2 separate regions of the Homo sapiens genome follow, and region 2 is linked to region 1. The links come from fine-mapping of genetic effects on gene expression. Tissue or cell type: whole blood. Region 1 holds a variant in brackets; the other region holds the start of a gene. All regions are shown on one strand. Distances are between the middles of the regions.

The links. PIP is the estimated chance that this variant, and not a neighbour inherited with it, causes the effect.
Region 2: PANX2 starts here. The variant in region 1 is fine-mapped to the expression of PANX2 in whole blood (INTERVAL, PIP above 0.99).

What each region holds. Positions count from the first base shown.
Region 1 is chr22:49,994,919-50,002,219 of GRCh38, reverse strand. It overlaps IL17REL (interleukin 17 receptor E like), which reads left to right. Exons shown (of 15, transcript NM_001371417.1): 3 at 989-1,138; 4 at 1,357-1,466; 5 at 1,628-1,742; 6 at 1,980-2,024; 7 at 2,253-2,392; 8 at 2,718-2,789; 9 at 2,875-2,929; 10 at 3,911-4,083; 11 at 4,151-4,195; 12 at 4,478-4,535; 13 at 4,737-4,900; 14 at 5,146-5,226; 15 at 5,360-7,301. The coding sequence ends at 5,545. Among named protein-coding and RNA genes, the nearest start is that of IL17REL, 14 kb to the left of the region's middle. RefSeq lists enhancers at 1-900, 901-1,860, 1,861-2,819. The variant C/G (reference allele first, on the strand shown) is at 4,649.
Region 2 is chr22:50,166,832-50,174,132 of GRCh38, reverse strand. PANX2 (pannexin 2) reads right to left here and starts at 3,402. Exons shown (of 3, transcript NM_052839.4): 1 at 3,177-3,402. The coding sequence starts at 3,402. RefSeq lists an enhancer at 1,877-2,569 and a silencer at 4,169-4,228.

The DNA of each region.
Region 1 (7,301 bases):
CTAAAAGAATTTGGTAACACTCCTAGCTGCCCTTTGGAGGTTTCCAGTGGGTTACACCCTGTGGAGGATCGGCCTGCAACCAATCAGAGGCTGAAGTGAAGTCTCATTATCACAGGAGGGAGGCTGTGGCCTGTGCTGCCTAATCTTGCCTGGAACTGGCTGCACCTGCTGTTCTTTTGCTTCTCCCTTCACCCCCAGTTACCCTCATTCCTTACTCTCCTGCCTCAGCAGGGTGCTGTGTTCAGTGTGGGCTCCGCTGAGCAGCAGCCGCACTGTCTCACCAACAGCATGTGGGTCCCACGCCTCGGTGGCCATGCCTTCTATAAAGAGGGTGGCAGTCCTCCTGTGGAACAGCTGGGTTGCCAGGCTCTGTGGCTCACGTGAAGTTCTGCTCTGAGTCCCACCTGCAAACCTGGCTGAGCAAAGCCCCCAGTGCCCAAAATGATACCCAGCTCCACACTGCCCACGTCTGGTGAGGCTGCTCAGAATGGCGTTTGGTCTCAGAGCAGAAGGCCCTGGGGGCAAGTCCTCCCTGTGAGGATGCGGCCGCTTCCCTGTGGACAGAGGCCTGGGCTGCAGCAACCTTGGGGTCGCCTCCCAGGTGTCCCAGCAAGCCCGTGTTGGCCTTTTCTGCTGTTCGTCTTTGAGCAGAGTCGACAGAGCTTGCCAGCAAGTCGTGGTGGGCTTCCTGCCCCCTTGCTGGCCAGGTGGGGCAGCAGCTTCCACTGCTCTGATGCAGACTGGTGTGCAGCCTGCCCCCCTGACCCAGGCCCACTCCTGGGGTCCCACAGACATTTTGGAGTGTGTCTCGGGGTGGGGGCTCACCACATGCCAGGGGACTTGCTCTCCAGTTGGCCTGGGGCAAGATAGTAAAGACCCCCTGGCAAAGACTGCAGCCCCAGGGCTCTCTCCCCCTTCCCAGAACCACCCACAAAGCCTTTCCGAGCACCAGGGAACTCGAGGCCTCACGCTCCTTCTCCCTCCCCAGGGAACATTTTTAACAGCTTCTGCCGGCCACGCCCCGTGTCCATGTCCAGGTCAGTCCTGGAGGCCCTGACGTCCTCCACTGCCATGCAGTGTGTCCCCTCTGACGGCTGCGCGATGCTCCTGCGTGTACGCGCCTCCATCACCCTGCATGGTGAGAGGTGGCCTCGAGGGTGGGAGTTAACACCCGCAGGTCCAGCAGTGGGCCCAGGTGCCTTTTATTCCCATCAAACCTTGGGCGGCCTGGTGAGGGAGGGGGGCTGCTAACCGCACTTCACAGAGAGAAGGCAGAGGAACAGGGTCCCACGGCCCCGTCCGGAGCCAGGGGCGGCCCTGCTCTGATGCACCCTGCCGGGTCCTTCCTCCACCCAGAGCGCCTGCGGGGCCTGGAGGCCTGTGCCATGAGCCTGGACACCCAGGAGACGCAGTGTCAGAGCGTGTGGGTGGCCAGGGCCTCCCACCGGCAGCAGGGGGGGCAGCAGGTGAGGCCAAGGCAGGGCTCTGCCACCCAAGTCCCGAAGACTGGGCGCCACTCCTCCTGGGCGCCATCCCTGGCTCTAAGCTCCAGCCATGCAAGTGGAGCTGGCCGGGTGGGGTGGGCAGTGCCTCTGAGTCCACGCAGCTCACACCTGCACCTGCTCAGCTCCAAGTGCACTTTGGCTGCTTTGCGGTGAGCGTGGCCCAGCACCTCTATGTCACCCTGAGGACCATCCCTCATTTCTGCGGGGTCCAGCTGGACCAGAGGCACCTCGTGGAAGGTAGGGTCCCCAGGGCCCCCTGAGCACAGCTACCGTTCAGCCTCCAGGGCCTGGCTTGGGGTGGGACTTGCCCAGGGCAGGGGCCTGGCCCTCACACTGGACAGATCCCCGCAAGACCTCTGGCTTAATTCGAGGTCGCATGACAGAGGCACAGCGCGTGGATGGGGGGCGGGTGGAGGAGGATGGCCCCTGAGGGCAGGGCAGCCCGCACCCCGCCATTGCCTCTGCGGTTTGCAGACTGCGGAGAGGAGGACGTGGGGAGGAGCGTGCCCGACTGCCTCGGTGAGTTCCCTCCTTCGACGCCCCTGCGAAGACCCTCAGACGCTGCGACAGGCTTCCTCTCCCCGGGGTCTTCTGCCCCATTTGGGAAATCCTGAGGGGCCCTCGGGCGGGCGACTCCCAAACGTCTGAACCCAGCAGGAGCCACCACGTCGGGGCTCTCGGGACAGACAGAGCCCCGCGTCGGTGACCGCTGGTCCCAGCGCGGCCCCGACTTGCCGCCTCCTGCAGCGGGGAAGCTCAGCTACTGGGTGGACCGGAGGCGCAAGGCGATTCTGGTGCAAGTGCCCAGGGCCTCCGGGAGCCCCGACTACTACCTGCGGCTCTGCCTCAAGCGGTTCACCTGCGAGGACGCCGGCGCCCCTGTGCGAGTGAGCGCCCGCGCCCCGGGCCCCGGTCAGCCTTAGGCCCCGCCCACCTCCGCGCCCCGGGCCCCGGTCAGCCTTAGGCCCCGCCCACCCCGCGCCCCGCCCACCCCCCGCGCCCCGCCCCCGGCCAGGCCTAGGCCCCACCCACCTCCGCGCCCCGCCCCCGGCCAGGCCTGGGCCCCACCCACCTCCGCGCCCCGCCCCCGGCCAGGCCTAGGCCCCACCCACCTCCCGTCCCCGCTCCCGCCCCGTTCGGTGCAGGTCCCGCCCACCCCAGACCACCCCCGCCCTCCCGCGCGGCCCCTCAGCCGCCCTTTCTGGGTTGCAGGTGACCGCCAACAGCGTCTCCCAGGCCGTCTTCCTGCCCTACAGCCAGGAGCTGCCGTGCCTGTGCCTGGAGGTCGGTGGAGGTGTGGCCTGGACTTGGGGCGGGTGAGGGGAGCACAGGGATGGGTGGGCTGCGCTGACCCCAGCCCCTCCCACAGGGCTGGTCTGCGACCCCTGACGCGGTGCGGATCCAGATCTGCCCCTTTGAAAACGGCAAGTGTCCTGCGATGCCAACGGGCGGAAGGGTGGGAATGGCTGCGGCCAGTCTGACTCCACCATGAGGACTGACGTGGGGGGATGAGATAAGGAGCAGGCCCAGCCTAAATCCCTGAGCCTGCTCGGAAGGGCTTGTCACCAAGGGAACCTGCGCACAGATGTGGATGTGCATAAGTGTGTGTGTGTGTGCAATGTACATGTGTGCGCACGTGGACCAGCTCACCTGGGAAAACCAAGCCTGTCAAGAGGGGCTGTCTGAGGGGCACAAGAGAGACGTCCTGCTCTCGGTTCTGCTCAGCGACGCTGCACACACACACATGCACAGACACCCACGAACATACACGCCCATACACATGCACAGACACCCATGAACATACACGCCCATACACATGCACACACACATGCACAGACACCCATGAACATACACGCCCATACACATGCACACACATACACATGCACACGCACACCCACGCGCAGGCAGGCACACCCATGCATACGCACACCCACACCCATGGACACGCACCCATGCACACGCACCCATGCACATACACACCCATACACATGCAAACACGTACACATGCACACACACCCATGCACAGGCAGGCACACTCACGCACACCCATACCCATGACACCCATGCACAGGCAGGCACACTCACGCACACCCATACCCATGACACCCATGCAAACACGTACACATACACACACCCATGCACAGGCAGGCACACTCACGCACACCCATACCCATGACACCCATGCACAGGCACACACATAGGCGCACGCACCCATGCACATGCATATCCACACACATGCACATGCACCCATGCACACACGTGCACAGCCTTGAGCCAGGGCTCAGAGACCCATAGGACTGCGCTGGACCCTGGCCCAGTGGTCACTTGAGTGGGTGCTAGACCCCATGGGCCTGGCAGCCAGGGTAGGGCCCAACTGACCTGTGTTTCGGGGAGGGTTCCTGCAGACACTGAGGCACTGGAGGTGCTGTGGGACACGGTCTACTACCACCCGGAGAGCCAGACACTGAGCTGGGAGCCCGCCTGCCCTGTGAGTGGCCATGTGAGCCTGTGCTGGCGCCCGGGGCCGGGGGCCGGCTGCCGTAAGCTGCAGCAATCCAGCCAGCTGGTGCATCGCAGAGTGAGTGCCTGCTCAGCAGGGATGGGGGTGGGCATGGATGCCACAGCCTGACCCCAGCCCTCCTCAGGTGCAGTACCCGCTGGTGGACACCCAGCCCCAGCTCTGCCTGAAGGTGAGGGGCTGCCACAGCCTGCCAGTGCCCTATTTGGGGAGGGGCCAGGGGGCATCAGGGCGGGGAGTGGGGCAGGGGCCCTTGCCCAGCCCTGGAGCCTAGCCTCCCAGGCGTCCCTCAGAGCCCCCTCCTGGTCTGACAGTGGGTGAGCTAAGGGCCTAAGGAGGAGAACTGGGCCCAGAGCACCCTGAAGCTGACCCAGCCTGTCCCTGTCCCTGCCCCTGTCCCTGCCCCTGCCTCACACACACTCCACCCTCCTGCACCCCTCACCCCACTTTGCAGTTCTCTACCAGTTGGGGGTCCTGGGTGCGGTGCCCTTTCGAACAGCGTCGCTTCCCAAGTAAGTTCTCCATGAGGCCTACGCAATGTGGACGCAGCACAGAACATCCTTTATATCACTCTGTGCTGGTCAGGGAGGTGGAATAACGGTGCCAAGCCAGTGTGGGGGAGGTA[C/G]AGTGGGCAGGCGCCAGGCCCACTGGGGAAGGAAGGGAGGCGGTGGGGTGCTGGGCCGGATGGGGGTCTCACCCTTCACTCCCCACAGCCTGGAAAATGACCATCCAGCCTTCGCCCACAAAGGGCCACCTCCGGGTCACCTTCTTCTCGTCCAGCCCCGCCCACTTCCAGGTGCACCTGTGTCACAGGAGGAAGTCACAGCTCCCTGCCTGCCAACGCACACTCCAGGCCAGCCCGCTCCCTTCAGCCTCAGTGAGCCGAGAGAGTGGGGCTCCATCCTGGGGAGGTGGGGGTGGTGGCGGCAGGACCCCATCACTTCCCTGTGGTGGTCTCTGCCCCACCCGGGCCCTGAGCCCACCCAGGGTCTAGTCTACCTGGCAGGGAGGGATGGGAGGCCAGCCCTGCTTTGTGGGTGCTGAGAGGATGTGGGAGAAGGACAGTGTTTAGCCTGATCCACCCTTCCTCCCATTGCCTGTGACCTGCCCTCCCCCACCCAGGGTGACCTGGCAGCCGCCCCTGCTTTTGCCTTCCTAGACCTTCCCAGGGAGGAGGCCTGTGCCCCAGGCATCTGCATCCAGGTGGGTGTCGCTGCTGTGCCCAGCCCCTAGCCATCTCCTCCACTGCAGGACCTCAGTTCACACCCCCCCTTCCCATCCCCCATCCCCGGGGGAAGCAGGAGGCCATGTTGACGGAGCTGCCTTATGCCTGCAGGGCTGGAGGACCGATGTACACTTCTCCGTCCCCCAGCAGCTCTGCAACCTCCGCTCCAGTGGGTGCCCATCTCTCAGGGGCCGCAGGAGGCCGAGGACTAGACCTAGGCCTCCCACGGCAGGCTGGGCGTGGCGTGCACTGAACAGGAGACTGGGTGGGGGAAACGGGGAGACCATCCGGCCCTGAGTCAGGTCAGGCTTCTGCGCCAAACCCAGGTCTGTGCCCAGCACTGCCCTCCAGCCTTGCATTTCCCTCCACCACACACCGCTGGGCCTCCCGCACGCCCACCCTGGTCTCACTGTCACTGGCCTTGCCTCCTCCTCCCTGGGGGTCCACCTTCCCTGATCAGAGCTCTGGTTCCAACCGCCAGTGACTTGGGATGTCCCTTTGCCCACCAGCCACTGAGGCCCAGGCTCCCAGGACCCAGGGTACATCAGGACAGGACTCTGCCCAGTGGACAGAACTAAGCACATGTGGCCTGGGTGTGGTCAGGAGCGTGGCTCTGCCTTGGAGTCCAGGAAGGGTCAGAGCTGGCACTCCTACCTGCACCCCTCCCTGTGAGCAAAAGAGCTTGCCTAGCTTCGGGTGGGGTGAACCGCAACAGCCACAGAGGTGGGAGGGGTGGGAGGGGGTGGATAGGACAGCCTGGCACCCAGGGCCTCTGGAGACCCTTTCCAGGGAGCACCAGTGGGCCAGGCAGGGGTCTCTGGAATGTCTCCTCAGCTCAGCTGAGCCACAGCCATTTCAGGGCAGCCTGCTGCCCACAGGACATGCCCAGGGCCGTGGCAGTACCCGCAGACCTTCAGCTCCCCCTTCTCCCAGCAAGACTTTTTGGCCAAGCCTAGGTCCCCCTCCCTAGCAAAGGTCACCTCCAGCAGATCACAGACTAAAGGGGCAATGGCCACCTGCTGGTCAGGTGTCCCTGGGGCTGGCACCTGCCACTGTGGAGTGCCCATGCTATGCTGGGCAAGTCCACGGCCCCAGGGACAGGCCTGGAGGCAGCAGGAGGACCGGGCCTGGCTCAGGTGGGGGGATCTGGGGGTCATACACACTCCTCTTGGGGCCAGGGTGGGCTCCTCCTTCACTTGTCTGCTGAGCCTCCCTGCAGATGGAAGGCTGCTGTCCACAGCCACTGGCACCCCAGGACTGGGCAGCCCCCTCCCCTTCCCTCACATGTCTCAGCCTCGCACAGTGGGGGCAGGGCTGGGAGGTGGTGTCCCAGCCAGTACCACCCCTACGTCTCTCTCCAGCTGCACCCACCCACATGGGACGGCAGCCTGAGGCCAGGAATCTCCTCACGAACAAGTAGGTGCCAGGGACACATTGCTGGGGGGCAGGAGGCCAAGGCACAGCCTCGGACAGCTGAGCCAGGCCCCCCTCCGAGAGTGTGGGGTGTTCTCACCTGACTGTGGGGCCTAGGCACCTGCTGGCTGTCCTGGGGCTACAGCTCCATGGGGCCCTCAGGGGCTCTGGGTCACATAAAAGACCTTCAGCCCTGTCCTGAGTCCCCTGGGAACAGCAGGAGCTGGGTGGGCTACCCCTTCCCCGGATGGCCCAGGTGCTGGACCCCAGCCTCCCTCTCAGACAATTCATGGTCATGGCCACTGTCCCTGGCCCTGAAGACAAGGCCCTGGCAGCTGCCTGGAGCTTCCCCAGTGCTCTGGGGTGCAGGGTGCAACCCCACCCTTCCTGTAGCTGATCAGGCCCGAGGTGGTCAAGGATCACCCCAGTTTCTGCCCAGGGCACCCCACACTGGCTGGAGTCCACCTCTCCTGTCTGTGCATCCTTGGGTGCTGAGCTTCACTGGGGCACCCGCCCCACTCGGACCCCTCCAGAGGGTCTCAGCTTCCCCAGATCCCAGCCCCACTCACCCAGCAACGGTCAGTCACTTCCTGTGGTCTCAGAGGCCACCTGCCTGGGGGCCACCTGCTGGGATGTGCGG
Region 2 (7,301 bases), 170 kb before region 1:
CCCTGTCTGGTCACCCCAGACCACTGCCACATCCTGGAAGCCCTCAGCCGAGGCCAGGCCCTGGCCCTTCCCCGACTCCCCTGGCCTTACAGACCTCCACATGGGGTCTGCAGTGAGCAGAATCATGGCCCCCAAAGATGCCACATCCCAACCCCGGAGCCTGTGGCGGTGTCACGTTTCCCGGTTCACGAGGACTTTGCAGACATGCCTAGGCTGGGGGTCTTGGTGGGCAGCAATTGCAGGGTTCTTCTAAGAGGGTCAGAGTCAGGGAGGAGATGTGAGGACAGAAGTGGGGCTGGGAGAGAGAACGCCACGCAGCCGGCTCTGAGGACGCAGGAAGGGCTGCAAGGCCAGGAATGTGGAGGCCTCTGGAGGCCGGAGAAGGCAGAAAGTGGGTTCCCCCTTGGAGCCAGCCCTGCTGACACCTTCGTTTTAGCCCCATGAGACTCGCATCTGGCTTCTGACTTGTAGGTTTGTTCCAGCAGCCACAGGAAGCTAATCCTGGCGGTGGCTGCGCACCTGCTACATTCTCCACTCTCTGCAGGCTGAGGGGGGCCGAGACCCTTCCCCAGCCCACCTTGGAGACCCTGGGACTTGGCCCCCAACCTTCGAGGGTACTGCATCCTGAGACAGCAGCTGGCCACACGGGCCCTCAGGCCCAACCCTGCCCTGCGGCATCAGGGGCTGCGCTCGGCCCTCCAAGGATGATGAAGCCAAAAAGAGGAACCAGCCCATAGGCTCCTGGGAGGGTGCTCGGGGGCAGAGCGCTCGCTTCCTTTCCGCTTTAAAGAAGAAAGTTGGGCCGGGTGCGGTGGCTCATGCCTGTAATCCCAGCAATTTGGGAGGCCGAGGCGGGCGGATCACCTGAGATCAGGAGATCGAGACCAGCCTGGCCAACATGGCAAAACCCCGTCTCTACTAAAAATACAAAAAATGGGTCAGGCACGGTGGCTCAACGCCTGTAATCCCAGCACTTTGGGAGGCCAAGGTGGGCGGATCACGAGGTCAGGAGATCGAGACCATCCTGGCCAACATGGCAAAACCCCGTCTCTACTAAAAATACAAAAAATTAGCCGGGCATGGTGGCGGGCGCCTGTAGTCCCAGCTACTTGGGAGGCTGAGGCAGGAGAATGGTGTGAACCCAGGAGGCGAAGCTTGCAGTGAGCAGAGATCGCGCCACTATACTCCAGCCTGGGTGACAGAGCGAGACTCTGTCTCAAAAAAAAAAAAAAAAAAATGAGCCAGGCGTGGTGGCGGGTGCCTGTAGTCCCAGCTACTTGGGAAGCTGAAGCAGGAGAATCGCTTGAACCCGGGAGGCAAAGGTCGCAGTGAGCCGACATCGCACCACTGCACTCCAGCCTGGGTGACAGAGCGAGACTTTGTCTCAAAAAATAAAAATAAAAAAAGCGGGGGGGTGGTGAAGAAGAGAAAAGGGCACAGTGGCTCACGCCTGTAGTCCCAGCACTTTGGGAAGCTGAGATGGGAGGATCACTTGAGCCCAGGAGTTTGAGACCAGCCTGGGGAACATGGCACAAAAATTAGCTGGGTGTGGTGTGGGATGCCTGTGGTCCCTGCTACTGGGGGCTCGGGGCTGAGGCAGGAAGAACACCTGAGCCCGAGAGGTGGAGGTTGCAGATCGCACCACCGCACTCCAGCCTGGGCGACATACCAAGACTCTGTCTCAAAAAAAAAGGAAATTTGGACACAGACAGGGAGGGAAGAAGCCCATGAGAAGACAGAGGCAGAGACTGGTGGCACGGCCACGAGCCAAGGCGCCCAAGGATTGCCGGCAGCACCAGAGGCTGAAGAGGCTGGAATGTCCCTTTCCTAGAGCTGTGGGAGGGAGCAGGGCCCTGCCGACACCTCGATTTTGGACTTTTGGCCTCCGGAACCATGAGAGATAAATGTCTGCTGTTTGAAACTGCCTAGTTTGCGGTACTTGGTTGCTACAAACACAGAGAACACACGTGGTGTCTGGACATGCTGGGCCTGCCCCAAGGCCCCACCGCACGCCTGGGCTCCCTGCTCTGCAGAGTGTGCTGTGTGCCCACCCCAGGGGTCCTCTAATCCCCGGGGTCTGGCCTCCAGTGTCGAAGAGGAGACCAGCAGAGGCCTCCTCCACCCCTGGGTGGGATCAGACAGCCTGGCCAATGTCCACCCTCAGGCCTGGTGTCTCCAGGCCACGGGGACTCCTTAAGGCAAGGCATCTGGGAGATTTGGGAAGCGCCAGTGCTGAGGCAGGGTCTGCTGAGGTTTGGAGGCTGCAGAAGAGAGGGCCCCAGGGTCCCAACACCCCTCCCCGCTGCAGACTAGTACCTCTGGGCCACACAGGCCAGGAGACCCTGATCCCCCTTGCCTTGGCCCAGACCCCAGGGGAGGAAGTTCTCGGCTCCACCTGTCTCGCCCCACTCCTTGGGGAGGGCAGAGGCACCAGGACCCCACCCCGCAGAGGCTCACAGGCAGGCTGGCTGCTCTGTCCATCTTCCTGCCTCGCCTGGGTGGCTTCAAGTGCCCCCACAGGTCCTGATCTAACCAGCGCGGGTCCCTGCCCTGGTCCAGCCCCCATCTCCCTGCAGGAGCTCCAGGCTCCCTGCTCTGACACGTGGCCCTGCCCCATGCTAGCCCCCCTGCTTCAAACCTTCGGAGGCCCCCAGTGCACCCGGAGAGGCCTCGCCCTGCCTGAGGGGTGGAGGGCCTGGGCCTCTCAGAGACTCTCTCTGCCCTCCTTCCACCCAAGTCCAGCCTGGGAACCCTGCCCGGCAGCTCCACCAGCCCCTGTAATCAGCTCTCTGCTGTCAACACCCATCCCGGCCTTTCCTGGTCCCCACCTGGCCACCCTGCATCCCCTCAGGCGCTGCTTGTGACATTCTCCAAACCAGACCCCGTGTCTCATGACATTTGGGACCCCTGGGTCCAGACAGGCCTAGTCCCACCCGCGGCCATGGGCGGACGAATGGAAGGAAGAACAACAATAAAATAGAGACGAGGGGTCTGTGCGACCAGCGACACCTGCTAGGATGGGGGCGGCTGTGGAAGGTGCCTGGGACGCCGCGGACGCAGCCAGGCCACGGTGGGCGCGGCTGGACGGAGCCGCCGGGGACGCGGGAAGCGCCAGCTCCCGGACACCTGCGGACGCCCCCTCTGCCCGCGCCCCGCGCCCCGGCCGCCGGCCTCACCTGCGAAGTTCTTGGTGAAGACCAGGGTGACCAGCAGGATGGGCACCAGCACGGTGCCGATGGTGACCACCCGGTCGAACGGCAGCTCCAGCTTCAGCTGCAGAAGCAGCGCGGCCAGCGCGCCCGCCTTGTCGTCCTGCGCGCCCGGCAGGATCAGCTCCCGCAGCTTCTCTCCCGCCAGCAGCGCGGTCGCCATGTCCGCCGACTGCTCCAGGAGGTGGTGCATGGGGGGCGGGGGGCGCGGCCCGGCGGGGGGCGCGGGCGGGGCGGGGGGCGCGGGGCGGGGCCCGGCGAGGGGGGCGCGGGCGGGAGGGGACGCGCGGCGCGGGGGCGGGGATCGGGGAGCGTGGGGGCGCGGGACGGGGACGGGGCCGCGGGCCGCGGGAGAGGGTGGCAGGGGACGCCGGGACCGAGCGGGGGGCTCCGGGGGATGGGAGTAGCCGGAGGCGCGCGGCGGGTGCGGGGCTGGCCGGGCGCGGAGCCCGCAGCGGGGTTTGGGGGGCGCTCCGCCGCCGCCCCCGGGGTCAGGGGGCGGGCGGGCCGGGCCGGGGCGGCGGCGGGGGGCACCGGAGCCGCCCGCCTCCGCCGCAGCCCGGCCCCCGCCCTGGCGCGTGCCTCCGGCGGGGGCGGCGGCGGGATCCCGGCCCGGAGCGCGGGCGGCGGCTGCTGTCCCTGCCTGGGGCCGGCGGCCCCGCTCCCGCCGCGGGGAGGGGGCTGTTTACCTGCGGCGACTCCGCGGCGTGGCTCCGCCCCACCCCGCCCCCCGCCACGCAGATGCGGCGCGGGCGATGACTTTGCAGAAAATATTGAAATGAAATGAAAGGACATGAATGAGTAATGACCGGTCCCTCTTCCTGGGAACGCGGGGTGGCTGGCGGGGGGCTGCCCCGGCCCGCGGGAGGGTGGGCAGGGGTGGGGGCGGCCCTGCGGGGCTCCGGGCTGGGGCGGGGGCGCCGCTCGGTGGCGACGTGAGGACTGGGCGCGCGCTGGGGCTGCCCCCGTCGCATCGCAGGGCCCTTCGCCCAGCCCAGGGCGCAGAGGGGGCTTCCTCGCCTGGGCCCCCCACCTGCCCCGGCCGCGCCCCGCTGTGGGTCCGGAGGTTCCCGCGCTCCTGGGGTGCTGCGGCCACTGGCGGGGAAGCCGGCGCTCTCTTCTCTGGGCTCGGGCGCCAGTGCGCGGGCAATGAGGGCATCTCCCCGCCCCACACCCTCCACTGCAGCCCCGGCCCCACCCGACCCCCCCACCCAGTACCCCCAGTCCCGCCGCCGTGAGTGACCCCATCACCCCCGCTCCTGCAGCCCGCACCTCCTTCCCCCACGCCCCATCCCGTCCCCTGTTCCACAGACGTTCCCGGGGCCTGTGCCAGCTCAGGGGGTCCCCGCCGCCTCCCTGACCTTCATTCCCTCCGCTCCCCACAGCCCCGCCCTCCGTCCTGTTCTCCCTCGGGGAGCCGGGGGTCTGGCTTCAGACGCGGGCGCATCCCGCGTGGTCCCTGCCTCTTCGAGGCAGCCGTTTTCCCTCGTGCAGGTCCCCTTCCCACTATACCAGGACGAACGTGCACGATCTTTCATATAAAAGATTTAGTGTGATTGGAGTTTTAAGTTCATTCAATAATTCATTCCAAAAATGTATTTTGAGCCCGTGTTCACAGGCCCGGCCACTGCTGTGAGCAAACCAGGAGGTCCCCCTGCCTCCCTGGGCTGCGTAGGGGATGTGTCTGCTTTGAGCTTTCACGCCGTCTGCGTTTTTAAAGATCCTTGCATGTTTTCTGAGGGATGCCAGCCCCTGACTTCCAGCAAACTTCATCCTGAGGCAGGCAGTTCAGCTACATCCAATCCCAGCACCCAACCACCCAGTCACCCCAGATAAACCCAGTCACCCCAAATAACCCAGGCACCTCCAGATAAATCAGCCCTGGCAGATAACCCAGTCACCCTGACAACCCAGGCACCCCAGATAAACCAACTCACCCCCCGATAACAGTCACCCCTACCAGATAACCCAGTCACTGCCAGATAAACCAGTCACCTCCCAAATAACCCAGTCACCTCTCACATAACCTATTCACCCCAGATAACCCAGTCACTGCCAGATAAACCAATCACCCCAAATAACCCAGGCACCCCTCACATAATCTATTCACCCCAGATAACCCAGTCACTGCCAGATAAACCAGTCACCTCCCAAATAACCCGGGCACCCCTCACATAACCTATTCACCCCAGATAACCCAGTCACTGCCAGATAAACCAATCACCCCAAATAACCCGGGCACCCCTCACATAATCTATTCACCCCAGATAACCCAGTCACTGCCAGATAAACCAGTCACCTCCCAAATAACCCGGTCACCTCTCACATAACCTATTCACCCGATAACTCAGTCACTGCCAGATAAACCAGTCACCTCCCAAATAACCCAGTCACCTCTCACATAACCTATTCACCCCAGATAACCCAGTCACTGCCAGATAAACCAGTCACCTCCCAAATAACCCAGTCACCTCTCACATAACCTATTCAACCCAGATAACCCAGTCACTGCCAGATAAACCAGTCACCTCCCAAATAACCCAGTCACCTCTCACATAACCTTTCACCCCAGATAACCCAGTCACTGCCAGATAAACAATCACCCCAAATAACCCGGGCACCCCTCACATAACCTATTCACCCCAGATAACCCAGTCACTGCCAGATAAACCAATCACCCCAAATAACCCGGGCACCCCTCACATAACCTATTCACCCCAGATAACCCAGTCACTGCCAGATAAACCAGTCACCCCAAATAACCCAGTCACCTCTCACATAACCTATTCACCCGATAACTCAGTCACCCCCAGATAACTCAGTCATCCCAGATAAAATCATCATCCCCAAATAACCAAGTCACCCTTCAGGTAACCAGATAAACCAGTCATCTCCTAGATAACCGAGGCACCCCTCAGATAACCCATCCCGTATAACCCAGTCACCCCCAGATAACCATCACCCCAGAGAACCCAGCCACCCCTCACATAACCAAGTCACCCCCCCTCCCCGACAACTCAGTCACTCCCAGATAACCCAGTGCAGTGAGTTCCAGCCCCTCCGAGCGACCCGAGTGTGGCTGCTGGGTGGCTGCCTTTGTTTTCCAGATGCACTTTCTGCTTTCGCATGGGTGCCTCTCCATGCTTTCCAGAAGTGCTCGGCCAGTCCATGCTCTCACCATCCCTGTCTTCTTTCCAGCTCTCAGCCCTATCCACCTTCTAGTATCTGCCATTCTCGGGGGGAAGGGGGGGCGGGTGTAGCTTCCAGGTGCTTTGAGTTTATCTCTAGCGGTTTGTGTGCACGCTCTCTTCAAACCCTGAGCACTGCATCACTGGTCAGAGCTCACTGTAACCCTGAACTCCTGGGCTCAAGCAATCCCCCCACCTTGACCCCCCAAGTAGCTGGCATTATAGATGCACGCCACCATGCCCAGCTTTTTAAAATTGTTACTATTATTATTATTTTTTTGAGACAGAGTCTTGCTCTGTTGCCCAGGCTGGAGTGCAGTGGCGCGATCTCGGCTCACTGCAAGCTCCACCCCCCGGGTTCACACAATTCTCCTGCCTCAGCCTCCCAAGTAGCTGGGACTACAGGCACCTGCCACCACGCCCAGCTAATTTTTTGTATTTTGTTTTTAGTAGAGACGGGGTTTCACCGTGTTAGCCAGGATGGTCTCGATCTCCTGACCTCATGATCTGCCCACCTCAGCCTCCCAAAGTGCTGGGATTACAGGCATGAGCCACCACACCCAGCAATTTTTACTATTATCTTTTGAGACAAGGTCTCACTCTGTTGCCCAACCTGGAGTGCAGCGGTGGGATCTTGGCTTACTGCATCCTCCATCTCCTGGGCTCAAGGGATCCTCCCACCTCAGCCTCCTGAGTAGCTGGGACTGCAGACATGCACCACCACACCTGGCTAATTTTTTTGAGAGATGGGGTTTCGCCATGTTGCCTAGGTTGGTCTCGAATTCCTGGGCTCAAGTGATCCTCCTGCCTCAGCCTCCCAAAGTGTTGGGATTACAGGCATAAGCCACTGCACCTGGCCTTAAAATTTTTTTATCTGTAGAAACGGGGTCTCACTATATTGCCC